Homo sapiens: one gene and its partners. The protein of the gene in region 4 purifies or fractionates together with the protein of the main gene of each other region. This does not show direct contact. Each region holds a gene or a part of one and is shown on either strand. Other genes may lie near its edges.

Region 1 (3,500 bases), on a different chromosome or scaffold from region 4:
ACTCTGAAATCTACTAAAAGTCATTGAATTTTGTTTTATATGCAAGAATTTTACATATTACATATTACACCTCAAAAAAGCTGTTTAAACAATGTAAAAAAAGGTAACTATAATAATATCATTTACATATTAAAACTACTGCTTTTTACCCATATTTCCACATGCTGGAAAAAAATAGAGGAAAGAAGACTTATAAAGCTAGAATATCTCATTATGCTTGCCTTTATTTTAATGGCATAGAAAAATGTAGACATAGCTCTCCCTCTCCCTCTCCCTCTCCCTCTCCCTCTCCCTCTCCCTCTCCCTCTCTCTCCCTCCACGGTCTCCCTCTGATGCCGAGCCAAAGCTGGACGGTACTGCTGCCATCTCAGCTCACTGCAACCTCCCTGCCTGATTCTCCTGCCTCAGCCTGCCGAGTGCCTGCGATTGCAGGCGCGTGCCGCCACGCCTGACTGGTTTTCGTTTTTTTTTGGTGGAGACGGGGTTTCGATGTGTTGGCCGGGCTGGTCTCCAGCTCCTAACCGCGAGTGATCCGCCAGCCTCGGCCTCCCGAGGTGCCGGGATTGCAGATGGAGTCTCGTTCACTCAGTGCTCAATGGTGCCCAGGCTGGAGTGCAGCGGCGTGATCTCGGCTCGCTACAACCACCTCCCAGCCGCCTGCCTTGGCCTCCCAAAGAGCCGAGATTGCAGCCTCTGCCCGGCCGCCACCCCGTCTGGGAAGTGAGGAGCGTCTCTGCTTGGCCACCCATCGTCTGGGATATGAGGAGCCCCTCTGCCTGGCTGCCCAGTCTGGAAAGTGAGGAGCGTCTCTGCCCGGCCGCCATCCCATCTAGGAAGCGAGGAGCGCCTCTTCCCCGCCGCCATCCCATCTAGGAAGTGAGGAGCGTCTCTGCCCGGCCGCCCATCGTCTGAGATGTGGGGAGCACCTCTGCCCCACCGCCCTGTCTGGGATGTGAGGAGCGCCTCTGCTGGGCCGCAACCCTGTCTGGGAGGTGAGGAGCGTCTCTGCCCGGCCGCTCCGTCTGAAAAGTGAGGAAACCCTCTGCCTGGCAACCGCCCCGTCTGAGAAGTGAGGAGCCCCTCCGTCCGGCAACCACCCCGTCTGGGAAGTGAGGAGCGTCTCCGCCCGGCAGCCACCCCGTCCGGGAGGGAGGTGGGGGGGTCAGCCCCCCGCCCGGCTGGCCGCCCCGTCCGGGAGGTGAGGGGCGCCTCTGCCCGGCCGCCCCTACTGGGAAGTGAGGAGCCCCTCTGCCCGGCCAGTCGCCCCGTCCAGGAGGGAGGTGGGGGGGTCAGCCCCCCGCCCGGCCAGCCGCCCAGTCCGGGAGGGAGGTGGGGGGATCAGCCCCCCGCCTGGCCAGCCGCCCCGTCCGGGAGGTGAGGGGCGCCTCTGCCCGGCCGCCCCTACTGGGAAGTGAGGAGCCCCTCTGCCCGGCCAGCCGCCCCGCCCGGGAGGGAGGTGGGGGGGTCAGCCCCCCGCCCGGCCAGCCGCCCCGTCCGGGAGGGGGGAGGGGGGGGTCAGCCCCCCGCCCGGCCAGCCGCCCCGTCCGGGAGGGAGGTGGGGGGGGTCAGCCCCCCGCCCGGCCAGCCGCCCCGTCCGGGAGGGAGGTGGGGGGATCAGCCCCCCGCCTGGCCAGCCGCCCCGTCCGGGAGGTGAGGGGCGCCTCTGCCCGGCCGCCCCTACTGGGAAGTGAGGAGCCCCTCTGCCCGGCCAGCCGCCCCGTCCGGGAGGGAGGTGGGGGGGTCAGCCCCCCTTCCGGCCGGCCGCCCCGTCCGGGAGGTGAGGGGCGCCTCTGCCCGGCCGCCCCTACTGGGAAGTGAGGAGCCCCTCTGCCTGGCCAGCCGCCCCGTCCGGGAGGGTGGTGGGGGGGTCAGCCCCCCGCCCGGCCAGCCGCCCCATCCGGGAGGTGAGGGGCGCTTCTGCCCGGCCGCCCCCACTGGGAAGTGAGGAGCCCCTCTGCCCGGCCACGACCCCGTCTGGGAGGTGTGCCCAGCGGCTCATTGGGGATGGGCCATGATGACAATGGCGGTTTTGTGGAATAGAAAGGCGGGAAGGGTGGGGAAAAAATTGAGAAATCGGATGGTTGCCGGGTCTGTGTGGATAGAAGTAGACATGGGAGACTTTTCATTTTGTTCTGTACTCAGAAAAATTCTTCTGCCTTGGGATCCTGTTGATCTGTGACCTTATCCCCAACCCTGTGCTCTCTGAAACATGTGCTGTGTCCACTCAGGGTTAAATGGATTAAGGGCGGTGCAAGATGTGCTTTGTTAAACAGATGCTTGAAGGCAGCATGCTCGTTAAGAGTCATCACCACTCCCTAATCTTAAGTACCCAGGGACACAAACACTGCGGAAGGCCGAAGGCCGCAGGGTCCTCTGCCTAGGAAAACCAGAGACCTTTGTTCACTTGTTTATCTGCTGACCTTCCCTCCACTATTGTCCTATGACCCTGCCAAATCCCCCTCTGCGAGAAACACCCAAGAATGATCAATAAAAAAAAAAAAAATAGAAATAAAATAAAATAAAATAAAAAAAAAAGAAATATATGCAAGCGATATTAACAGCTAAAAAAAAAAAAAAAGAAAAAAAAAAAGAAAAATGTAGACATAATGTATTTAGAAAAAGAGACTCTGATTAAGCCATAAATCTGAGAAATGGATTATGCAAGACATCTTATTATACACCTCCCCCACCTCTTCATAAACATCAGTGATGAGAAATAAACTACCCTAAAGCCAAAAAAGGTGTTAGTTTTACAATACCTATTAAAGAATAGCTTTCTTGAACATCATTTGTCTGATTACCTGTCTTTGAGAGAGCTAAAAGTTCATTCAAATGTGCTTTCAATAAATTTAAACATTTTAAATCTTTGAGGCATTTCCTTCAAATTCATGGTAAATCAGGGGCCATTTAAACCTGTTGTTTTTCTCACAGTAAAGTTCCCACCACACAGTTACTAGTCTTGATCACTGAGCAACTTGCGACTTTCAAGCCAGTGCCTTTCTCTTGCAGGGTCTTCTCTATTTTCCCTTCCTGTCCTTTCTTTTCCTACTCTTGCCTTTTCTTGCGATCCCTGCAAATTTCTGGCACGTACCCCTTTCTTAGCCCTGCCTGATGTGTCAACTCCAGGCTTCCTCTCACTGGCCTTCCCCTTTCTGGGGAGTATAGGGGATTTCCTCTGCCATCTACCCACACTTCCCCAGCTGCCTCTCCAATCTGTCTGATCTCACAGTACCATCATCTTAATTCCTACATCTATGCACTGGCATTTCCAAAGCAACACCATAGATCTTTTACAAGCTTCCTTTTGAAGATTCTTATGGCACCATATTTTTATCTGAAGAAATGTGTTCCCCTTTCTGGTCCATCTTCCCACGTCTGCAATCACTACTCCAGGGACACTTTACTAAACACGGATGAAGTCTATAGTAGACTGAGAGCATGTGAGGATAGATCAAAGAAGAAAGTTACATTCAGAAGACAAATAGTAAAAGTAAAGAAAC
Region 2 (4,201 bases), on a different chromosome or scaffold from region 4:
TGTTTTGTCAGAAAAGGCATCATGGCCGGGCGCAGTGGCTCACGCCTGTAATCCCAGCACTTTGGGAGGCAGAGGCGGGTTGATCACAGGGTCTGGAGTTCGAGACCGGCCTGGCCAATATGGTGAAACCCCATCTCTACTAAAAATACAAAAATTAGCTGGGCGTGGTGGCGTGCGCCTGTAGTCCCAGCAGCTTGGGAGGCTGAGGCAGGAGAATAGCTTGAATCTGGGAGGCGGAGGTTGCAGTGAGGCGAGATCGCGCCACTGCACTCCAGCCAGGGTGACAGAGCGAGACTCCGTCTCAAAAAAAAAAAAGAAAGGTATCACATACATTCAATTTTGTACAACTAATTTTTCCAGTATGCATAAAAATTTATATTTGACAACAGAGAATATGCTTCATCATAAACACAGCAATATCTTTTCCACTTTGTTACTAATAAGTTGCATGTTTTCTTAGTAATTTTAAATACCTCCATCTGAAAAGTATAGGGTAGGCTGACCACAAAAGATGAAGCCTAACAGTTGGTAGGGGTACCGCACTTACATAATATTCTAAAAACGTGCTTTTCCTAGGTACTCAGTGACTATATACAGTAGTGAATATTAAACATTCCTGTATCAATCCCATTTCCTACAAAGTTGACCTAATTTCAAGCATAAAACTGAGGTTTCCACCTTTAGAAGGGTAGAAAACAAGAGTTAAGTAATTGGGTAGTCCTAAAAATACACATCACAACTACATGACTAAGATACTCATTTAAAACTTGTGCCAAGATAACCCCTCCCTTCCAAACTAAAATTGACTCACTGGCCTATTTTACTTAATTTTGAAAATAAAAAAATAAAACTAAATGGATTCCTAAGCACTCATTTCCTCTCTCTGCCCCCATCATTTAAAATATTCAGACTTTCAATCTGTGATTCCTCCCTGCAAAAACACTCAAGTAAAAACAAAACAAAACAAACACTCATTATCTCCAAGTTAACTACCTTGGAGTTAAAAAAAAATCATTAGATTCTGGAATGATAACCACTGTTCTAAGACCATATAAAACAACAGAAACAATGTCTGTGGTCGCTAAGGAACCATACATCCCACCCAGAGAAACGATCTCGCCTCAGATGATACTTGTCATCTGTGAGACCACCCCTTTAGCTAGAGTTAACCACTTGAGCAGGTTTCAATTTTGTCTCTGAAAGTAGGAAGCTATCAGTCTCCCTACATGACTCGTTCCACCCTTTGTGGATACTTCTACCTGTAGAAAAAAAGGTTGGCAAACTTGGTGGCATGGTGAGGACAAAGGGCATTTTGAAAGAACCAGTGACTGAGGTAAGCAGAGAATGTGAACGGAAAGAGGGTTAAAGTTCCCCCAAATGGATAATGACAAGACGACGCGGGCACCCTTTTTTTTTTTTTTTTTTTTTTTACCACCCCTAGGGTCCCATTCTTCACCACCACCCATTGGAATGCAAAGTTGGCACTACCACTACCCAAGATGCCCAACAAATCCTCAAAATGTCAGGGCACTCGGCAGCTTCTGAAATGACAAGCTGGTGCCCCTCCCCCACCCCACCCCCACCCCCACCCCCCAAAAAAGAAAAGTCCAATCCAGTCGGTGCAGGTCACCCTGCCCTCTGGGGCAGTTCCAGCCTGCGCAGGGAGGGGTTCCGACCGGAGAACGAAAAAGCACAGATAGACCACCGCTCTTTCCACCCACCCTCAGCGGGGGAAACAAAGGCGGCCTCCTCCGCCCGTAGACACTACCCTAACCAGAGAGGCTCTCCGATTTCCCGGTGCAGCCTGCCCTCCCGCCCCCGCCCGAGCCCCCGCCCCCATGACAAAGAAAAGGCACTCGGCGAGCAAGGCCTTCCTGCCTCCAGGGATGGGGGAGGGGGCTGCACGGGTGAGAAGCCCCCTCCACTCGCCCGTGCTCATACTCCTGGTCCCAGGAACTGCAGAAAGCGGCGGGGAGCCGGAGGCCTCGGCCGCGGAAGCAGGGTCCGGGAGGAGGGTGAGGGTACCTTGAAGTAGCCGCCTTCGTAGAGGGTGTTGGGGGGTCCGAAGATGGCCACCTCCCAGTTGTAGAGGTCGGACTCGTCCACCAGGGTGATCCGGAAGCCCTCCACCGGTTCCTCCTGCAGGGATTTCAGCTCGAGCATCAGGGCCTTCTGCGAGCTGGTCATCTGCTGCTGGGCCATCGCGGCGGCGGCGGCGGCGGCGGCGCCGGGCCCGGGCCCCAGTCCTCACGCACCGGCCGGGCCGGACCAGGCCCCTCCCCTCCGCTCGCCCTCCGGCCGGGCAGCACCGGGCCCCGGTCTTCACACACCCGGCGGGCCAGACCAGGCCCCACACGGCCCGTGGGCCCGCCCGGGGTCCTCCTCACACACGACGCAGGCCGGGCCGGGCCCTTCTCCTCACACTCGGGCCGGGCGAGAGGAGAGGTCGAGGGAGTTAGGAGAATTCGCTACGGGTCCCGGTCCCGGGCCTCCCCCCCCCGGAGGGGGCCTCAACTTGGGGGGGGGGAGAGGAGGTGGAAGCGGAGGAAGGCGGCGGAGGGCCGGCGATGGTGAAGGGAGGGGGCCGGGCCGGCCCGGGAACGCCGCGCTCGCTCGCCCTCTCGTTCTCTTCGGGGGCCGCAGGGGCCGGAGGGCGCGCGGGGCAGGAGAGGGTGGGGGGAGAGCGGCGTGCGGGGGTCTCGCGGCGGTGGCGGCGGGGGCTGCGCGGGGGGAGGGGCGACGGCGGAGGAGGAGGAGAGCGAGAGCGCCTCGCGCCGCGGGAGCAACGGAGCCGAGAAGCAGGGAGGGAGGGAGGGAGGGAGAGAGGGAGGAGGGGCGCACGCCGGGTGCTGGGCGGCTCTCAGCGGCTGGCGGCCCGACGCGCGTGCGCGTGCCCCTCCCTCCCCTCCCCCCACCGTGCCTGGCTCTCCTCCACTACCACCTCCTCCTCCTCCCGTTTCCACGCCTCCTCTCGGTCTCCCGCGCGGTCGCGGCGCTTTGTGACGCTGGCGCGTGTCCCCCGCCCATAAAGATCCCAGAAGCAGCGGGGACCAAGGGCGGGCGCAGGGATTGCCGTGGCCCCAGAGTGACGGTTGTGCGGCTGGACGCCGCAGTTCCAAAGGCGTGCCCGGGAAGGGAACCCAGGTCTCCCGGCTCTCGGGGCCCTCCCCACTGTGGATCCAGGGGCCTCCGCAGCCATCCTGGGACGGGCCTGGTCGCTGCAGGCCCCTCCCCGTGACACCCAGTCTGCGGTCCCTCCACTTAGTAGCTACTTGATTAGGATGTGCTGACAATGTGGGTCTTTTCGGTGGGAACAGACCTTCCCGCAGGCCAGCCCACAGGCAAGTGTGCCCTTTGGCACGTTACTCACCCTGGGTGCGGCAGTTCCACGTGAGAAACGGGGTGAGACAAAAAGGTCAGCTTCTGCTTCCCTTCTTAACTACAAAGAGGAAGTTGTGAGGAAAAAGACAATAACAAACTGGGTCTCTAGCCCTTCTCATTGTGATTTGGGGCAAGTGCTCAGGCTGCCCTTCGCCTTCGCCATTTGTAAAATAAACTACTGTGGTTGAACTTAGGGGTCAAAGTTCCCTATAGGTGCTTGTGGCTTGAATGTCCACCCTGGAACTGAGGGACTTTCGAGATAATCATAACCGAAGTGAGATGTGGGGACAGTCTTTGGTCCCCCCGTGGTTCAGAATACAGTACTCCTTTCTCCTAGGAAGGCATGTCCTAGGATAACTGCCTAAAAAACATTTCCTAGAAAAGCCAGAATATTGTGAGAGTTCTACACACACAGTTTCGGAACTAGACAGATCTTGGTTCCAACCCTAGTTCCATTACTTCTCCCTGTATCATCAGTTTTTTGTTTTTTGGTTTTGTTTTGTTTGAGACAGGGTCTTGCTCTGTCACCCAGGCTGTAGCACAGTGGCGCGATCATGGCCCACTGCAACCTCCGCCTCCCAGGTTCAAGCGATTCTCCCACCTCAGCCTCCCAAGTAGCTAGGACTACAGGTGCATGCCTCCACACCCGGCTGTTTAATCAGCTTCTGTAAAAGGGGATTAATTATACCCAACACAAGCAATTGTAATGATTAAATGTATGTACAGCATTTAGCGTAGTGACTGGCACATGGTTAATGATTCATAGAAACTTGAAAGAAAAAAACTTTAAGGCATAGCTGTATTCTGGATACCACCACTA
Region 3 (4,166 bases), on a different chromosome or scaffold from region 4:
AAGGGAGTAGGAGCAGCAGAGCATGGCTGGCTGCCTCTGGGCTTGTGTTTTTAATGCTAACCTCGGCTCAAGTCAAGATGAAGGTCAAGGAACTCGAAAGCTTTCCCCGCTGCTTAGAATGCAGATGCTGCCAGCCAACACCAGAAGGAAAGAAGTGGTGCACCGGGAGGGGTGGGCAGGCACGGGGTGGGGTGAGGGATACAGAAATTCCAGCCTTGGTTACACATCTTGGGCTATCAGCTAAGTAGTCTCCACTGCAATAGCTCCCCTGAAGGTGCAAGACCACAAGTTTTGGAGGAGGAGAAAGTTGACCCTAATGATAATCGGATCCAATTCCTTTTGCAAATGAGGAAACTGAAGACCACAGCAGCAGCAACGTTACTCAAGAACCAAGTTGGTGGCAGGGCTGGGCTCAGGATGTGGGGTTCCTGAATTCAAGGCCAAATTTGCCCTTTTGCAGGAAGGAAACTGCCAGTTTTTCATGGCAGTAGGGGAGGGCAGCTTTCCTCCAGTACAGAGACTATCTTTTGTACTTAGTGGGAGTTCAGGAAATGCTGAGTGGCTTATGGTGGGCTGGCATCTGCTCCAGGAAGGGCTGCAGGAGTCTGATTTATCTCCACCCCAGCACAGGGTATAGCACCCACTGGGTGCTCAACGCATTTGTTGATGAAGGACTAACACCTATTGAGTGCTCGCCATGCAGTGCTGGGTGCCTTCTTTGAATGTCACATTTAACCCTTCCAGCAACCCTAGAATTAGGTACCATTACTATCCCGCTTTTTTTTTTTTTCCCTGCAAACAGGCTCAGGTTAAGTAATTCCTCAGAATTCCAAACCTGACTGCTTTTAAGCACGACGATGACTCTCAATGAATGTTGAAAGCAGATGCGCCCCAGAGTAGGGCTTCTCAGACTTTGACCGTAGGGACCTCCTGGGGTCCGTAAAATGTCCACTCTGATCCAGCAGGGCTGGGCTGGGGCGGGGATTCTGTCAAGCGCCCGGGTGGTGCCTCCACTGCAGGGAGCCGCTCACGAGCCGAACCCGGCGGTCCCTGTAATCATGAAAGACTGAAGCGACCCCTAGGTGTACCTCCGCCACGAAATGTTTATTGGGCCCTGCATTTAATTCAGGGAAGGAAGTTACCGCGCTTGCCAGTTTACAAAGATACACAAACGGCCTGGACCGGGATGGGGCGAGGACCCCTGAGACTCCAGGGCGGTGGCGTCTTCCCCCCGGGACGCGCCCAGGAGTGGCGCGCGGGGCCCCCGCGTCACGGCGCCCGCGCTCCGCAGCTCCCGGAGCCCGGCGGGCCCGCCCCAGGGGCGGGACGGGGCGGCTCCCGGCGCGAGCCCCCGCCCAGCTGATCCGCCGCTCTCCGCCTCGCTTGCTCCTGCCGGGCGTGCAGGGCCCCGCCGCCGCCATGTCGGGCTCGTTCGAGCTCTCGGTGCAGGATCTCAACGACCTGCTCTCGGACGGCAGCGGCTGCTACAGCCTCCCGAGCCAGCCCTGCAACGAGGTCACCCCGCGGATCTACGTGGGCAACGCGTGAGTCCCTTTCGCGAGCCCGGCCCCGCCGTCCCTCTCGGGACGCCCCGCCCACCCGAGGCTGGGGTCGGGGTGTCGCGAGTCTTGGGTTGGGGGAGCCCGGGCGCGATGGCCCCTCCGGGAGCCACAGCGGGGGCTTGGGAGGGGCCTGGAGTCGACGCCTACCCCCGCGCGTGGGGCCAAGGAACTGGAACCCTGCCTGGCCGGGCGCGGCCCTTCCCCGTGGCGGGGTGCACGGAGCCCGGGTGGCGCCTGCCCGGGTCCCAGCCGCCACCCGCTTGGGGCTTGGCCTTGGGCGGGGTCGGGGCTACCATGTTCACTTAACAGGTGACCCTCGGTCGCCCGGCCGGTCTCCTGCCCGCGCGTCATGTGACAGCTGCCTGGTTCTGCAGTGAGGTCACCGCGGAATGTCTGCCTTCGCCGCCATGGCAACGGGCCGACGTCACAATTCGGGCATGGAATTTTCCCGGCCCGGCAGTCCCGGATCAGGGAACCTAAACACCCCAAATGAGCGAGTCCGGGGAGCTGGGCCGGGATTTCCAGGCCCCCACCTTCCAGATGTGATTTGATTTACAGGAGATTCTAGAACGGTCCAGTGATAACCCCCCTAAGGACCTGAGCCACCACCTAGAAAAGGCTCTTGACCTTTCACCCCCAGGCTCTGTCACCCAGGCTGGAGTGCAATGGCGAGATCTCGGCTCACTGCAACCTCTGCCTCCTGGGTTCAAGCAATTCTCCTGCCTCAGCCTCCCGAGTAGCTGGGATTACAGGCGCCCGCCACCACGCCTGGCTACTTTTTGTATTTTTAGTAGAGACGGGGTTTCACCATATTGGCCAGGCTGGTCTCTTGGCCAGGCTGGTCTCAAACTCCTGACCTCATGATCCGCCCACCTCGGCCTCCAAAAGTGCTGGGATTACAGGCGTGAGCCACCGCACCCGGACAGTAAGAGATTTTTTTTAATTTAAATTTTAAATTTTTTTTCTAGTAAGAATGTCTAATCAGCAGGAAAGAACCAGTGTTAACATTCTGAGATGTGAAATAGGAGCCTCAAGAAAGAATATATTAGCATGCCTGTACAGCCTTGGAAAGCCTCAAGTTGGATTTTCACGATACTCTGAGGACCCAGTTACCAAAATCCTAAGCTTCATGGCTCAGCCCAAGGATGGCATGTTGAAAACTCAAAACTAACCCTCCTCCCATTTTACAGAGGAGGAAATGGTGGCTCAGAGTGTGTGAGGGACTACAAGGACAGGGTCAATGTCTTGTTCATGTATGTATTTCCTGACCTCCGCTATGACCTGCTGTTTAGCCTGCCAAGGACTGCCACGGAAATGGGGGTCATCATGGAACTAGAAGGGGTCCATCAGGCCCCAGCCTCATGGGGACAGTTCTCATCCATTCCATCATTCATTCACCAGTCTGAGCACCTGCTTTATGTCAGGCACTGTACAATGTTCATTCATAGTAGAGATAGTAATAATGATAATTGTAAATTTTTTGAATGTTGAATTATTAATAGTATTAGAGGCCTGGCACGATGGCTCACGCCTGTAATCCCAGCACTTTGGGAGGCCGAGGCGGGTGGGTCACCTGAGGTCAGCAGTTCGAGACCAGCCTGACCAACATGGTGAAACCCTGTCTCTACTAAAAATACAAAAATTAGCTGGGCATGGTGCCTGGCGCCTGTGATCCCAGCTACTCCGGAGGCTGAGGCAGGAGAATCGTTTGAACACGGGAGGTGGAGGTTACAGTGAGCCAAGATCGTACCGTTGCACTCCAACTGGGCAACAAGAGCGAAACTCCATCTCAAAAAAAAAAAGTATTAGAGAAGGGAGATGAATGGGAGTGACTCTTCAAAGTGTTTTTTTCTATCAGCCACTGCTTCACAGTCTTGCGCGGTGTCCTAAGCAGGAATAAACAGAGTCCCACAGTGTCAGCCAAAGGCTTCAGGAATTGGAAAGCTCTAGAGACACCCTTCCTCTTGCACCAAGCAGCAAGCAGGCCTTGTTAGCCTCAGGAATCCCGCTTGCTTGGGCAGGTTGGCCATTCAGCTGTCATCACTTCCCAAGTGGAAACCAAGGTTGTACACGTCTGGTGTAGCCAGAGTGGCAATTGCTGATGGCCACTGTAGAAAATACATCCCTTGCCCTCTAAGCACCTCTGACCTTGACTTGGCCAGGGGTGTGGGGGTTCCTCAACAGGGAGGATCAGTGAGCACCAAGCACCAAGAGGATTTGGGCTCCATTCCCTTAACAAAATCAGGGCCGCAGCCACGTCCTCACAAGGCAGAGCCAGAGCCTGTGTGAGCCACATGTGCCAGGCCTTGGGGGTTTTGCAGCAGATGTGGGCATGAGGGGCAGAGTGAGGTGGAAGATAGAGCAGGGCTGGATGTCGGGAGAAAGGAGGTCTTCTCCCAGATCTGCCACCAGCAGCACACGGGGCCTGTGCCCATCCCTCTGCTCATCCTGTTGGGCCTGAGTTCAAGCTCTGTTAAGCAGGGATATTGCCATCCTTGTTCCTCACAGGGCTGCTCGCAGTGGGCAAGCAAGATCACACAGGAGGTGGCATTTTATAAAGTATAAACTGCTATTTGGACTGGGATGTTTTGTGAGATGAAATAA
Region 4 (2,942 bases):
TTCTTAACAAGCGCCCTAGTATTGGAAGCATGTCCTCCAAACACCATTATTTTATTGTGTGTGGCATGCTGTCTTACTTTCTGTAGGGTGAGGTTCTTGTTCCTTTTGAGGACCTTCAGTTGCTCACAGCATTGGGTGAGTTACAAAACACACCACTCTGAGGTATGTGGCCTGAAGGTGGTGATTCTGATGTCTTCATTTTGGAAAGAGTGTCACTGTCACCTACATACAATACAGATCTTCTTATGTGCTCTTCTAAACATGCACGTGCTCCAAGGAACACCAAATCCTTTTCTTCCTCTCCTGTGAGATAAAATTTTAAGAAGAAAATTTGTCTCCAGGAATCAGTCCTCCCCCAGTCTTTATTTACAATGTCTGGCTAACCTGTGGATCTGTCCGCCAATGCTACAGGATCTCATATCCCTCCGTTCTCAAATGCCTATCTTTTCCCTTCCCTTCCTCCCCACCATCAGAAAAAAAGGCAGAGGTATACACAGTCATCAGCTCCTCAAACTGATTTTATTGTAATCATCGCCATCAGTGGTGATGATTTGTCCAATTTGGACTAATTCTGCCCACCATCCTGTGGAGATCCTGCAGATATGTCTAGGTCTCCTTTCTCTTTGATTGGATCAGTGGAGCTCTCTGTAGGCTGGTTATTCTCCAGTTGATTTGAATTTCTTTTCTTATTCTTCCTGCAGTAAAACACTAATGTTGGATATTTTGCTTTTTCTGTCTCTTTCAAACTCTGTTCAGGGGCTGAGGCTCTGTGCAGATTCTTCTTCTTCTGGTAAAAAAACAGGGAGAGGCCAGAATGGTGTTATTTTGGATGAAGAGGGTAGAGAATAGATAGCAAGGGGGGCTTTATAAGAAGGAATGCAGGTTGAGGAAGGGGCTTGTGCCAGAGAAGAGCAAGGTGGAATCATAGGGTAGGGATCTATGGGGAAGAAGAGGAGCATGGGTAGGGTCATCTGTGTTACTCCAAACTGCATGACTTTGTAAGCTCCCTGCTATTATGCAGACCTCGGTCAAAGTGAAACATTCCATGGGGGTTCAGGCCATGAGAAACATCCTGTCTAACCACTTGACTACAAGGTGGACAAAGGCCCAACTAAGAAACATTGCTATCATATCTTTCTGGGCAAAGGTCCAAGAAACACCACAATGACATCCCACAGGAAAAAGGGTCAAACCACCTGATCATAAGAATATCTTATCAATATCCTGCCAGGCAGCATCCCATACTGCCCAGCTGCCTCCCACCAATACCTGTAAGTACCCCAGCCTGTAAGTGGTAGTGGGCTCTGGCATTAAGCTGGTCCCCCACTTCTGCAGCTGTCGGCAATATACCTGTGTTGCTGTTTGAGTGGTCCCCTCTTTGTGTGTCTTTAACCCTTGCCTTCCCTTCAAAACCTAACATTTTGGTGCCAAAACCCAGGATGGGGATTGAGTTCTACCAGGTAAGTCTTCTTTGCATCCTGGAAGGCAGCAAGCAGCAAAAACTAGACCTGAGCCTGCTTCCATATCCTGAGTGGACTACCTGTTCCCAGCCCCGTTCTCCTTATTCTCTCATTTTCTCCAGTCCTGGGCTGACCTCTAGGTCCTGATCAAACTCTCCATCCTCTGCTTCCTTACCCTTTCTGGGTGGCTCCAGTAAGGATCACCCCCATTGCTGGATCTTACATCCAACACCAGTCTCCAGTTAGTGGGTGAATCTCCCTTTTCCTCCTTTCCAGATTTTTCTCTATTTCTGCTGGTTCTCCAGAAAATCCTAGCACTGAGTTGGAGGTCTCCCTGGTCACCAGGTGACCGCAGCCTGCCTTCTCAGGGGACACCTTCAGAACGCTCACCACTCCAGCCACTCTGGCCTCTAGGGGACTGTGAAGAGCTGCCACAGCTCTTTGGTACATCCCAGCTCTCCTACGTCCATTCTCCTGGGAGGAATTGGGTAGTCACTTTTCTCCGGGGTATTCACTCCCCTTCTGGGCACTCACTCTTTTCTGGGATATTAACTCCCTTCTGAGGTACTTGCTTCCCTCTGGGGTATTCACTACCCTCTGGAGATACTCATTCCCTTCAGGGGTATGCACTCCCCTCCTCCAAACAACAAAACTTTCAACTTCCAAATTGAACATAATCTAAAAACTTTCTCTAATGCAATGGTAAAGGATCAAAAGTGCTTTGCTTATCTCCGTTCATGGATTGCTCTCTCTCTCTGCCAATCTTTTTCCCCTTTTCAAATCCTCCTCCTCAATGAAAAACCCGCAAAAATGCCTCCTCCTCAGGACAAGCCTTTCTCCTCTAATTTCAGCCTGGTTAAAAAAACCCCTATCTCAGTCCCCCTCCCAACATCATTTCCTCCTTCTTCTCCTTTGGCTCTGGCTCCTCCACCCCTTTACTGTCGCCCTCCATCCCCTCTTCGTTCTCCACCACAAACCAGGTCTCACACCCACCCCCCTAGTGCTGAAAACCAGGCACACACCCAAAGGCCTTCCAAAGCCCTTCCCTTGCAGGAGATCATGAGGGACAAAAGCATAATCTGAGATCATGTTCCCATCTCTCTAGCCAGCCTCTCCCATTTTAAAAGAGACTTGGCTCCTTTATCCAAGGATCCCATCTCTTTCCACAAGGAATTTTTGTATGCCACTCAATCTTACGACCTTACCTGGCAAGACACGTATGTCATGCTCTCCTCCACCCTCTCCCCAGAAGACAGGGAATGCATCTGGATGGCTGTCTATGCCAATGCAAACACCCTCCACCAACAACATGCTGCCCATAACCCAATAGGGACCCTAGCTGTCCCCAGGACTTACACCAATTGGAATTATCAGGCAACTTCTGCAGACAGACAAAAACAAGGCCATACGATATCATGCCTTCTAGCTGGCATAAATAAAGCTGCCCATGCTCTTTTCCTCTACTGCCTTTCAAAAGCCCTG
Region 5 (3,500 bases), on a different chromosome or scaffold from region 4:
TGCTCCTGTCTTCCTTTGCTGTCCAGGGCCTGCCTCGAGGCAGGGGCTCCACCAAGGTGAGATGGAGGATAAAGGGCCCGGAAGCAGTGAGGGGTGATCCAGCCCCTCTTACCCCAACATATCTGAGAAAACCAGCCCAATGTGGACATAATTCACAGCCAGAATGCCTGGGACATCTGAGATGGGTGGTCTGATACACACACTCTGCCCCCGCCCTAGGGACTACAAGTTAAGGAAAGAGCCCAGGCCAGGCACACATGGGCTTGAGCGCCAGTTCTGTTACCTACTGCATATATATAAATCCCGCATCTCTCAGTACCTCAGTTTCCTCATCTGTCAAATGGGGCTGTGAACAGTACCACTTGCTACCAGGCTGTTCTGAGGCAACTAAGAGATAGCAGATGGGAAAGGGCTTGGCTCAGCCGCCAGTGAGAGGGGCTCAGCCACAAGTAACCTTCCTGACTCGGCCGGGCTAGGGTTGGATCTGGGTCCCATCACTTAGCTGGTGGTGGGCACATTTGGATAGCATTTGAGCCTCAAACTTCTCTACAAATAAGCATTTGTAAGATTACCCATCTACCAGATTGCCCTGAGGACTGAAAAAAAAATACGTGTACATCTTGTACCTAGAACAAGGTGGTTATCATGAAAGAAACCCACATGTCTGTACCCTGAGGGCCCCATGAGCTTGGACAGGTTTGGAAATGGAGCCTCACAACAGCCGCTGTCTCTTGTGTCTCTGGAGGCTCTTCCTGCCCCAGAGCGACACAGCCTCAGCTTCCCTGAGGCTTCCAGTTGCCAGGTCAGACCTGCAGGGTCAGCGCTGGGGTATCAGCACTTAGGCACGGTGGGCTGAGGCCAGAGGCGAGGTACCCCAGTGGTGGGTACCCTCAGGGCAGGGCAGTTCAGCGCCCACCCCTTGCCCAGCCTTGCCCAGTAAGCAGTGGTCTGGGCCAGACCCTATGCTGGGTGCTGAGATGAGTCAGATGGGGGTCCCTGCCAGGGGCATCTTGAGGTTCAGCGGTTAAGTGGGGAGGTGACACAGAACTGCAGAGACTCAGAGATTTCCTGCGGGAGGGGCTTCTCAGCTGCATCTTGAGGAGGAGGGTGGAGAATGAGGGGGAGCACTGCGTGAAATGGCACAGGTGAGAAACAGCCCCAGAGCCTCCTCGCTGGCACGGGGCAGGAGGCAGGTGGGGGACACGCCTACAGTGTCACACATTCCCTGGCAGTGGGCTTGTGAAGGGGTGTGGGGGAAGTCTGTTGGGATAGATCCCTTGCCCACACTTCACATGGGGGAGTGAAAGAGCAGGGGCTCTGGAGTCAGGGAGCCACAGCAGGCGGCTGAGGGCAAGGTGCTCCCTCTGAGCCTTGCTGTCCTCCCCTGTTACCTCTGGGCCTGTGGGGATGCAGGGGGACAAGCAGGGGCTGAGCTCCTGGCCACAGGAGGAGCTCTGTCTGTAGGGCTGTGTCCATCACGCCTCCTTCTCATGGAAGGGCAAGTCTAGGGTTTGAGCAAAGTCCAGATGTAAGGCAGTAAGAAACTGAGACAGGGGAACACTCCAGATTACAGATGAGAAAAGGGAGAGTGCCAAAAACATCCTTTGACAACATTGCTCTCTGCCTGGATGTTTTACAAATGGGGAAATCAGGGCCCATGCTGTAGTGGAGTGACTGTGGACTCGGAGCTTCAGTCCCTAGGCCTGGACTCAAGTCCTGGCCATCTACCCTGGAGAGAGTTACTGCATTTCTTTGGATCTCAGTTTCTACATCTGCAAAATGAAACTGGGCATCACCATGCCTCACCATCAGCCCGCCATTAGGATTGGCTGGGGTGTCACTGTGAAAGGCATTTGGTAAATGGTGAGTAGAGTGCCCCACGGCACTGTGGGTGATGGTGCTGAGGACAGTGGACACAATGGTGAGGGAGATGGTCATGGTGGTGGTGATGATGATTGTGGAGGGGATGGTAGTAATGGATGTGGTGATGGTGGTGGCGACAGTGATGGGTGGTGATCATGGTGATAGTGTTTAGGGGGTGGTGGTGATGGTAGTGGTAGTAATGGTCATTGTAGTGGTGAAGATGATGGTGGTAGTGGTGATGGTGGTGATGGTAGTGGTAGTAATGGTAGTGGTAGTGGTGGTCATAGCAGTGGTGAAGGGTGGTGGTGATGGTAGTTATGATGGTGGTGGTGATGGTAGTGGTAGTGATGGTCATTGTGGTGGTGAAGGGTGGTGGTGATGGTGAAGGGTGGTGGTGATGGTGGTGGTGATGGTGATGGTGGTGGTGGTGATGGTGAAGGGTAGTGGTGGTGGTGGTGATGGTGATGGTGGTGGTGATGGTGATGGTGGTGGTGGTGGTGGTGGTGATGGTGGTGGTGGTGGTGATGGTGGTGGTGATGGTGATGGTGGTGGTGATGGTGGTGGTGGTGATGGTGGTGAAGGGTGGTGGTGGTGATGGTGGTGGTGGTGGTGGTGATGGTGATGGTGGTGGTGCTGGTGATGGTGATGGTGGTGGTGGTGGTGGTGATGGTGATGGTGGTGGTGATGGTGGTGGTGGTGGTAGTGGTGATGGTGATGGTGGTGGTGCTGGTGATGGTGATGGTGGTGGTGGTGGTGATGGTGATGGTGGTGGTGATGGTGGTGATGGTGGTAGTGGTGATGGTGATGGTGGTGGTGGTGGTGATGGTAGTGGTAGTGATGGTCATCGTGGTGGTGGTGGTGATGGTAGTAGTCATGGTCATTATGGTGCTGAAGGTGGTAATTGTGATGGAAGGCAGCAAACACTTACTGAGCATTTACTAGGGAACCCACATCCTACTAAAGTGCTTTATTTGAATTATCCCATTTAATACTCACAACAACCCTTTGAGGTAGGTATTACCATCAAACTCATTTTATCTATGAGGAAACTGAAGTTACATTCCTTTCCAGGGTCACAGAGGAGGGAATTGGCAGAGCCAGGATATATTGAGACCATCTGACTCTAGCATCCATGCTCTTAACCCCTACATTCAACTTCCTTGGTGAGGCATGAATATGGCACTAGCAAATCACTGCTTTCACTGGTTAAGGTCCCCGACCCCACTAAGAGGGGCAGACAGAGCTCAGAACCTGGGGGTTCTGATACCATGTCCCAGCCCCACTGGAGGTCCTGAGGGACCCTGGGTGCAGGGTAGGGTGGCCAAACCTGTGAGCTGCAGGATCTGGTCATCAAGGTGCGTCACAGCCTCGTCATGCATGACCTGGCCTCCGATGACAAATTCCAGGCGTCCTTCCTCCAGGAGCTGGCGGACCTTGACATGGGCAGGCAGAGAGAAAAAAGCCAGTTACGGCTCCTGAGCATGGCTGGGTCTGTGGGGAACACACCTACAGCGCCACACACGCCCTGCATAAAACTCCCCACCCTTGCTTACTCTATAAAAGCAGGGCACTGTCTGTCCTGGTCCACACTGTGTTCCCACCACCTAGAAATCATGCAGCCCTCAGGTGGTATTTGA
Region 6 (3,500 bases), on a different chromosome or scaffold from region 4:
GGCAATAAATTAAGAATCATTCAGTTAAGGAGAAATGTCTACTTCAGGGACAAAGCAGCAGCCTCCTCAGCTACACAAGGATGAGCGAGCAGCCACCCTTCTGGATCTCCTGGCGAGGAGATGCGAGGTGAGGCCCCGCCCAGAGGGCTAGACCTGCAAGCCCCACCAGAGGCTGTGAGGACCTGAGGAGGACCAAAGGGACCACAGACCAAGCCATGAGCTCACAGGGACGCAAGATCCCACCTGAATTCCGGCAGCAAAACCACGGTGCCAGTGAGTGCCACGAGGCAAAGGCTCAGAGCAAGGCGAGAGGACAGGAGCCGCTGGCGGGTGAGGCGGGGCCTTCAATAGACAGGCTCAGGGCCACGGGGAGGCTGAGCAGGTTTCGGGCCTGCGTGCGAGAGCCTGCTCTTCAAGTCATGGGGAAATCCTTTCTGAAGGAAGAACCTAAGTACTGCCGGGCGGGAGGAAGGGGAGAGAGGCGCCATCGGAACAGAAACCTGTCCCATCTTCCGGACACCTGCGCCGCCCAGGTCCTGCAGAAGTCCCACTGACGCAAAGCGTTCGACATTGAACCCACAAAGAAAGAAACCAAAGACTCAGCCCGGGCAAGAAGGCGACACCAGGCGGAGGGCCTGACCCATGCTAGGGCCCCAACTGGGCATGAGGGCCTGAAACGTACCCAGAAAAGTGGGCCAAGAGAGGGCCCAGGGCAGGGCAGGCAAAGAGGATGTGCCATCCATAGAATCGACTGCCCCCATTGGACTCCCAGGGCCTGGACATCCGGCTTTGCACAGTCCCTGCGGCCTCAGGGACCACGTTCAGTAGAGGGCGGCCAACACCCGAAGGCCATGAAACAGAGGCACACAGGAGCCTCAGCTGAAGTTAACACACATCTAAGAAATAAACTCCCAGCTGGGCGCGGTGGCTCACACCTGTAATCCCAGCACTTTGGGAGGCTGAGACAGGCGGATCACAAGGTCAGGAGTTTGAGACCAGCCTGGCCAATATGGTGAAACTCATCTATACCAAATTACAAAAATTAGCCAGGCGTCGTGGCAGGCGCCTTAGTCCCAGCTACTCTGGAGGCTGAGGCAGGAGAATTGCTTGAAGCCAGGAGGCGGAGGCTGCACTGAGCTGAGATCATGCCACTGCACTCTGGCCTCGGTGACAGGAGCAAGACTCTGTCTCAAAAAAAAAAAAAAAAAAAAAACTCCCAAGGATGGGCCAAGAAAATTGTCCAGAGGTGAGATGTGGCAGCCACGGGGTGGGGTGCTGGGGGTGGGTGCAGTGGGCAGGCCCCTCCCCTGCCCTGGCTTCCACATGGACCGCGGTGAGGAAGGTAGCTCCGCTCACCCACTCTGCGTCCTCCCACTCGCCCCCGGAGGCCTTCTGGACTTTGGCGTAAACAGGAGGAGCAGGCCCATCAGACCCTTGAGTGAGATTCCCATGGGTTGAGCACGTGTGGCCAATCCCGAGAGGCCACCGGCCAGCATGAGCCAATGTCCTGGCCCTCCCTGCCCTGTTGGTGTCACTCCCGTCCCACAGTGACGTCTGGAACCCTCCCCCGGTGTGTGGCTGCATGGCCTCCTGAGTCTGGGGATGGGAGAATAAGGCTTGTGCTGGAGGCCTTGGGCTGTGACACATACCTGTGGTCCCAGCTACTCGGGAGGCCGAGGCAGGAGGATGCCTTGAATCCAGGAGGGACCCAGAGAGATCTGGAATATTGTCTCATGCAACAGAAAGTGTCATCAACACAGAATCACGTTAAAATTCTGTGGGGGACTAACCATCAGAGAAACAAACTAAGCTTTCTGTCCACACAGAGCAACAAAGAAACCCTGCCTCTACAAAAAATAAAAAATTACCAGCCTGGGGCCGGGCACGGTGGCTCACGCCTGTAATCCCAGAACTTTGCGAGGCCGAGGCAGGTGGATCACAAGATCAGGAAATCGAGACCATCCTGGCTACCACAGGGAAACCCTGTCTCTACTAAAAACACAAAAAATTAGCCAGGCGTGGTGGCAGGCGCCTGTAGTCCCGGCTACTCAGGAGGCTGAGGCGGGAGAATGGCGTGAACCCGGAGGCGGAGCTTGCAGTGAGCAAGATCGCACCACCGCACTCCAGCCTGGGGGACAGAGCGAGACTCTGTCTCAAAAAAAAAAAAGAAAGAAAAAGAAAAAAAAAGGCTGCAGCCAGGCATGGTGGCTCACACCTATAATCCCACCACTTTGGGAGGCCGAGGCGGATGGCTTATCTGAGGTCAGGAGTTCGAGACCAGCCTGACCAATATGGCAAAACCCTGACTCTACTAAAGTACAAAAATTATGGCTGGGCGCAGTGGCTCACGCCTGTAATCCCAGCACTTTGGGAGGCCGAGGCGGGTGGATCACAAGGTCAGGAGATCGAGACCATCCTGGCTAACATGGTGAAACCCCATCTTTACTAAAAATATAAAAAATTAGCCGGGCATGGTGGCGGGTGCCTGTAATCCCACTGCTCAGGAGGCTGGGGCAGGAGAATAGCTTGAACCCAGGAGGTGGAGGTTGCAGTGAGCCGAGATTGCGCCTCTATACTCCAGCCTGGGTGACAAGAGCGAGACTCTGTCTCAAAAAAAAAAAAAAAAGATGGCAAAACCCCGTCTTCTCTACTAAAAATACAAAAATTAGCCAGGCATGGTGGTGCACACCTGTGATTCCAGCCTCCTCCGGAGGCAGAGGCACAAGAATCACTTGAACCTGGGAGGGGAGATTGCCATGAGCCGAGATCACATCACTACACTCCAGCCTGAGACAGAGCGAGAGTGTCTCAAAAAAAAAAAAAAAAAAGTATATATATATATATGTATATAAATCATGGCATCCAAGACAAGTCCACATGCCACCCAACCAGCAGACAACCCCCGCCATCCTCCACGCCAGCCCGGCTGGGGGTAGCTGGTGCCTCAGAGGGGCCACCCTTCAGGGTTCTTGGCAACGTGTTATTCTGAATGTCTGCTCTTTTCTTTCGAGTTAAGGCACATTTGTTCAATTTTAATTCAGGCAATTTTCAGCAGACATGAGTTTAACCCTAACCATGACTTTCCTGGCTAAGCCTAATGCTTTTGACCCTCCAGCAATTCCCAGACACCAGCGGACACCACAGGCCCTTTGCCAGCACTCAGAGAATCAGTGCCTGGGCCCTTGCCTCTCGCCAGACCCCACGGGGCCTTGAGCCCCGGGCCCCAGGCTGCTGGCCCCCCTCAAGTGCCTGCCAGGGATGGTCCCGGGCCCAGGGAGTCAGGACGAGGCAGTGATCTCGCCTGGCAGAGCCTCAACACTGTTCTGTTGTGGGAGGAAGATGGAGGGAGGGCGGAGGTTTAGCAAAGCACCACACCAGGGAGGACAAGCCTGCCGGAGCCAGGGACCATGGACTGGTGCCGGCCGGAAGGCCTGGTGGTTCATCAGCAGGAAGGCTGCACCCACCACTCACTCCACTGAACCATCACCCACCACACGCCC
Region 7 (3,500 bases), on a different chromosome or scaffold from region 4:
CAGGCGTGGTGGTGCATGCCTGTAGTCTCACCTACTTGGGAGGCTGAGGTAGGAGAATTGCTTTAGCCCAGAAAGTCAAGGGGGCAGCGAGCTATGATTGTGTCACTGCACTACAGGCTGCGTAACAGAGCAAAAACCCTGTCTCCAAAAAAGAGAAGAAAAAAAAAAGTCATCTAGCATCTTACTTTTTTTAAGCTGAATACTGACAAATTATAATTGTCTATATTTGTGGGGTACAAAGTGGATGTTCATCATTCCATCTTAGGTAACCATCAGTGACTTAGCTATTTCCCAACTACTGGGCATTTAGACACTCACTTGTTTTTGTGATGAACATTTTGTGTTCAAAATCTGTCTATAATTTAGGAAAAAAATTAGCATAAACTCTCAAAACCAGAATTACCAGGTGAGAAGGAATACTTTTTTTTTTTTTTTTTTTTTTTTTTTGGAGATGGAGTCTCACTCTGTCACCTAGGCTGGAGTACAGTGGCATGATCTCAGCTCACTGCCAGCTCTGCCTCCCAGCTTCAAGCGCTTCTTCTGGTTCAGTCTCCCAAGTAGCTGGGACTACAGGTGCACACCACCATGCCCGGCTAATTTTTATATTTTTAGTAGAGATGGGGTTTCACCATGTTGGTCAGGCTGATCTTGAACTCCTGACCTGAAGTGATCTGCCAACCTTGGTCTCCAAAAATATTGGGATTATAGGCGTGAGCCCCTACACCTGGCCAGGAGTTAGTATTTTTAAGGCTCTTGATATAAAATGATGTGCAAAAAGACTCCATAAATTTACATTCCTAACAGCAGAGTATGACATTAAAGGAACTAAAATGGCCACATCAAGTTAGGCAAACAGCAGAGCTTCAACAGTTGAACAGCCTCACAGAGCTTTCTTCCTAGTGTTTACTCCCGGGCTCTGGATGCCCCACAACTTCCCTCTCACCATACTCAAAACTCATATCCAAAGTGAACTTAGCACATGCCCCACAAAAACCTGCCCTCCTTCCTTCATGGCTAAGATTAACAAATGCACCCAAGTTAGAAATTAAAGGAGTCATCAGCCGGGCATGGTGGCTCACGCCTGTAATCCCAGCACTTTGAGAGGCTGAGGTGGGCAGATCACTTCAGGTCAGGAGTTCGAGATCAAGAACATCCTGGCTAACACAGTGAAACCCTGTCTCTACTAAAAATACAAAAAATTAGCCAGGCATGGTGGCATGCGCCTGTAATCCCAGCTACTTGGGAGGCTGAGGCAGGAGAATCGCTTGAACCTGGGAGGCAGAGGTTGCAGTGAGTTGAGATTGTGCCACTGCACTCCAGCCTGGGTGACAGAGCAAGACTCAAAAAAAAAAAAAAAAAAGAAAAAGAAATTAAGGAGTCATCCTAAATGCCTCTTCTCCTAGTCCCACAATCAATAAACCCAGGATACTTTTCAATTCTACTTCCTAACTCCTCCCCTGCCCTTCCTGCCCCACCTCTAATCAGAAGAATTATTCTAAAACACAAGTGTCATCTTGGTCATTATTCAATATCTCCGTATTTCAGCATATGTAAAAAGCAATAAATGTTCAGTTATATTCCCACGGGTGCCACTTTTGGTTTTCCATGGAGACTACTTATCACCAAGTAATATCAAGGTTGCAAGGGTGAGTTGAGATAAGTTATAGATTGGTTACAAGAGCTGTCAATTTTTGATACAGAAGTAACTACACAGAGCAGGATGAGATCCTTAAACCCCTGGTTACTTAATGGTGTGCAAAGCTGCCATAACATACATCCACCAGTGACTCTTAAAATAGGTGGGATCTTACTAAAGTTGAGAATATAGTCCAATCCTTATTATACCCTTATAACTGGGGCTAACTTCACTATCCTGCACATGCTTACGCTATCAGAATTGCTTTAAGGCAGGGGCCCATTGGCTACCTGGTTTTTGTACAGTCTTATTGGTACAAAGCCACACTATTTGATTACACAAAGCCTAAGGCTCCTTCCATTCAAGGGCAGAGTTGATGAGTTGTAACAAGAGACCACTTGGCCTTCAGAGCTTAAAATATTTACTGCCTGGCCCTTTTAAGAAACTCTGCCAAACCTGCTTTGAAGGAGTATTTTACAAAAATCAGACTCTCCTTGGTTCTGAACTAAGTCAGCATCAGGAGGTGACATCCTCTTGCTGATAAGAGGAGAAAGTAAACTTAGTAGCCATTTTTCCCCAATGGTGGTATCTCTACCTCTAACTCTCTCTAGAAACCTGGTGTCAGCAGTGACCTCAACTCTGATTTAGTCACCTGTCATCAGGGTGAGCCCACACCAGGTCTGATCTAAAGGCCATGGTCACAGGCCCATTCCTCTGCACCTAGTTGAACTACTCTAGGAAATCCAAATAGAAAAAACATAACTTGTCAGAAACAAAGCCTGGCCTGTCTTGATTCATTTTAAATCTTTATTAAATACCTAACATTAAATTTGTGTTACTAGTATAACTCCTCATTAATGCACAGTAAAATTTTAGGTAACGATTTTGGATTTTAGGTCAGATTCTACCACAACTGGATTGTGTAACCCTGAGCAAGTTGCTTACCGCTTTGTGTCTATCCACATCCTCACCTGTAAAAATCAGTTCTAAATCTCAATATTAAAAAATCTCACCCCGTTATTTCTAAAAGTAAGAAGTTTCTGAAAAGACTTTCAGCTTTTCAACTCTAGTGTTTTCTATGTGCTGAGGTGCTTCATTCGTAACAAGACTGGGTTATAAAACTAACATTTTTGCTATTCAATACAAATGAGCTATATCCATTTTTACCTTAATGAGAATGTCATCTAAGCAAAATCTGTGGGAATCACAAAATTGAAACCCATTAGAAAGAGAAAATATTAATCAAAAGACATTCCTTGCTTTATGACCTTTTATCTAAATCTCCTACGTATTAACTAAAAGACATTTTGCAGTAAAATTGAACCCTGCAAAATCTGGACGTACAGCTGACCCTTGAACAATACTTGGGTTGGGGCACCAACCCCCTGTGCAGTCGAAAACCCACACCTAACTTTGATTCACCAAAAACTTAACTACTAATAGCCTACTACTGACCGAAAGCCGTACCAATAACATAAACAACTGACAGATATGTTGTATGTTAATATATTACGTACTATATTCTTACAATAAAGCTAAGAAAATATTAAGAAAGTCGTAGGAAAGGGAAAATACATTTACACTACTGCACTGCATTTATCAATACTATAAGTTTACATAATTTGATTACAAGATGAATCCTCTGTCTGAAATGGGGTTGGGGGGCAACCTCCAACTGCAGACCTCTATCTACAGTACATATCAAACAAATCAACTTTTTCTTGTAATGTCTTTTTTCTCTGCTTCTTGGGAGCACCTGCAGCATCACCAGTGGCACGTCATATGGGACCCATGGTGTTATTTAAGGTTTATGGTATTGCATTAAATTTGATGAAATCTGTTTACTGCTATATGCAATTTACTT

Evidence for each region.
Region 1: the proteins of SPANXN4 (region 4) and INTS9 purify together in Homo sapiens (affinity purification with mass spectrometry; one large-scale study listed by BioGRID and IntAct). This does not show direct contact.
Region 2: the proteins of SPANXN4 (region 4) and UBE2R2 purify together in Homo sapiens (affinity purification with mass spectrometry; one large-scale study listed by BioGRID and IntAct). This does not show direct contact.
Region 3: the proteins of SPANXN4 (region 4) and DUSP3 purify together in Homo sapiens (affinity purification with mass spectrometry; one large-scale study listed by BioGRID and IntAct). This does not show direct contact.
Region 5: the proteins of SPANXN4 (region 4) and MAN2B2 purify together in Homo sapiens (affinity purification with mass spectrometry; one large-scale study listed by BioGRID and IntAct). This does not show direct contact.
Region 6: the proteins of SPANXN4 (region 4) and SSU72 purify together in Homo sapiens (affinity purification with mass spectrometry; one large-scale study listed by BioGRID and IntAct). This does not show direct contact.
Region 7: the proteins of SPANXN4 (region 4) and CARNMT1 purify together in Homo sapiens (affinity purification with mass spectrometry; one large-scale study listed by BioGRID and IntAct). This does not show direct contact.

The regions. Positions count from the first base shown.
Region 1 is NC_000008.11:28,879,970-28,883,469, forward strand, and holds part of INTS9 (integrator complex subunit 9), read right to left. Parts: intron 1-3,500. UniProt on the Homo sapiens protein: Component of the integrator complex, a multiprotein complex that terminates RNA polymerase II (Pol II) transcription in the promoter-proximal region of genes.
Region 2 is NC_000009.12:33,815,759-33,819,959, reverse strand, and holds the start of UBE2R2 (ubiquitin-conjugating enzyme E2 R2), read right to left. Parts: upstream 2,801-4,201; 5' UTR 2,203-2,800; coding exon 2,026-2,202; intron 1,334-2,025; exon of another isoform or gene 1,092-1,333; intron 1-1,091. UniProt on the Homo sapiens protein: E2 ubiquitin-conjugating enzyme that accepts ubiquitin from an E1 ubiquitin-activating protein, and catalyzes its covalent attachment to other proteins by an E3 ubiquitin-protein ligase complex.
Region 3 is NC_000017.11:43,776,178-43,780,343, reverse strand, and holds the start of DUSP3 (dual specificity protein phosphatase 3), read left to right. Parts: upstream 1-1,366; 5' UTR 1,367-1,419; coding exon 1,420-1,544; intron 1,545-4,166. UniProt on the Homo sapiens protein: Shows activity both for tyrosine-protein phosphate and serine-protein phosphate, but displays a strong preference toward phosphotyrosines. Specifically dephosphorylates and inactivates ERK1 and ERK2.
Region 4 is NC_000023.11:143,031,870-143,034,811, reverse strand, and holds the end of SPANXN4 (sperm protein associated with the nucleus on the X chromosome N4), read right to left. Parts: intron 788-2,942; coding exon 566-787; 3' UTR 501-565; downstream 1-500.
Region 5 is NC_000004.12:6,578,189-6,581,688, reverse strand, and holds part of MAN2B2 (epididymis-specific alpha-mannosidase isoform 1 precursor), read right to left. Parts: intron 3,297-3,500; coding exon 3,191-3,296; intron 1-3,190.
Region 6 is NC_000001.11:1,547,364-1,550,863, forward strand, and holds part of SSU72 (RNA polymerase II subunit A C-terminal domain phosphatase SSU72), read right to left. Parts: intron 1-3,500. UniProt on the Homo sapiens protein: Protein phosphatase that catalyzes the dephosphorylation of the C-terminal domain of RNA polymerase II. Plays a role in RNA processing and termination. Plays a role in pre-mRNA polyadenylation via its interaction with SYMPK.
Region 7 is NC_000009.12:75,021,794-75,025,293, forward strand, and holds part of CARNMT1 (carnosine N-methyltransferase), read right to left. Parts: intron 1-3,500.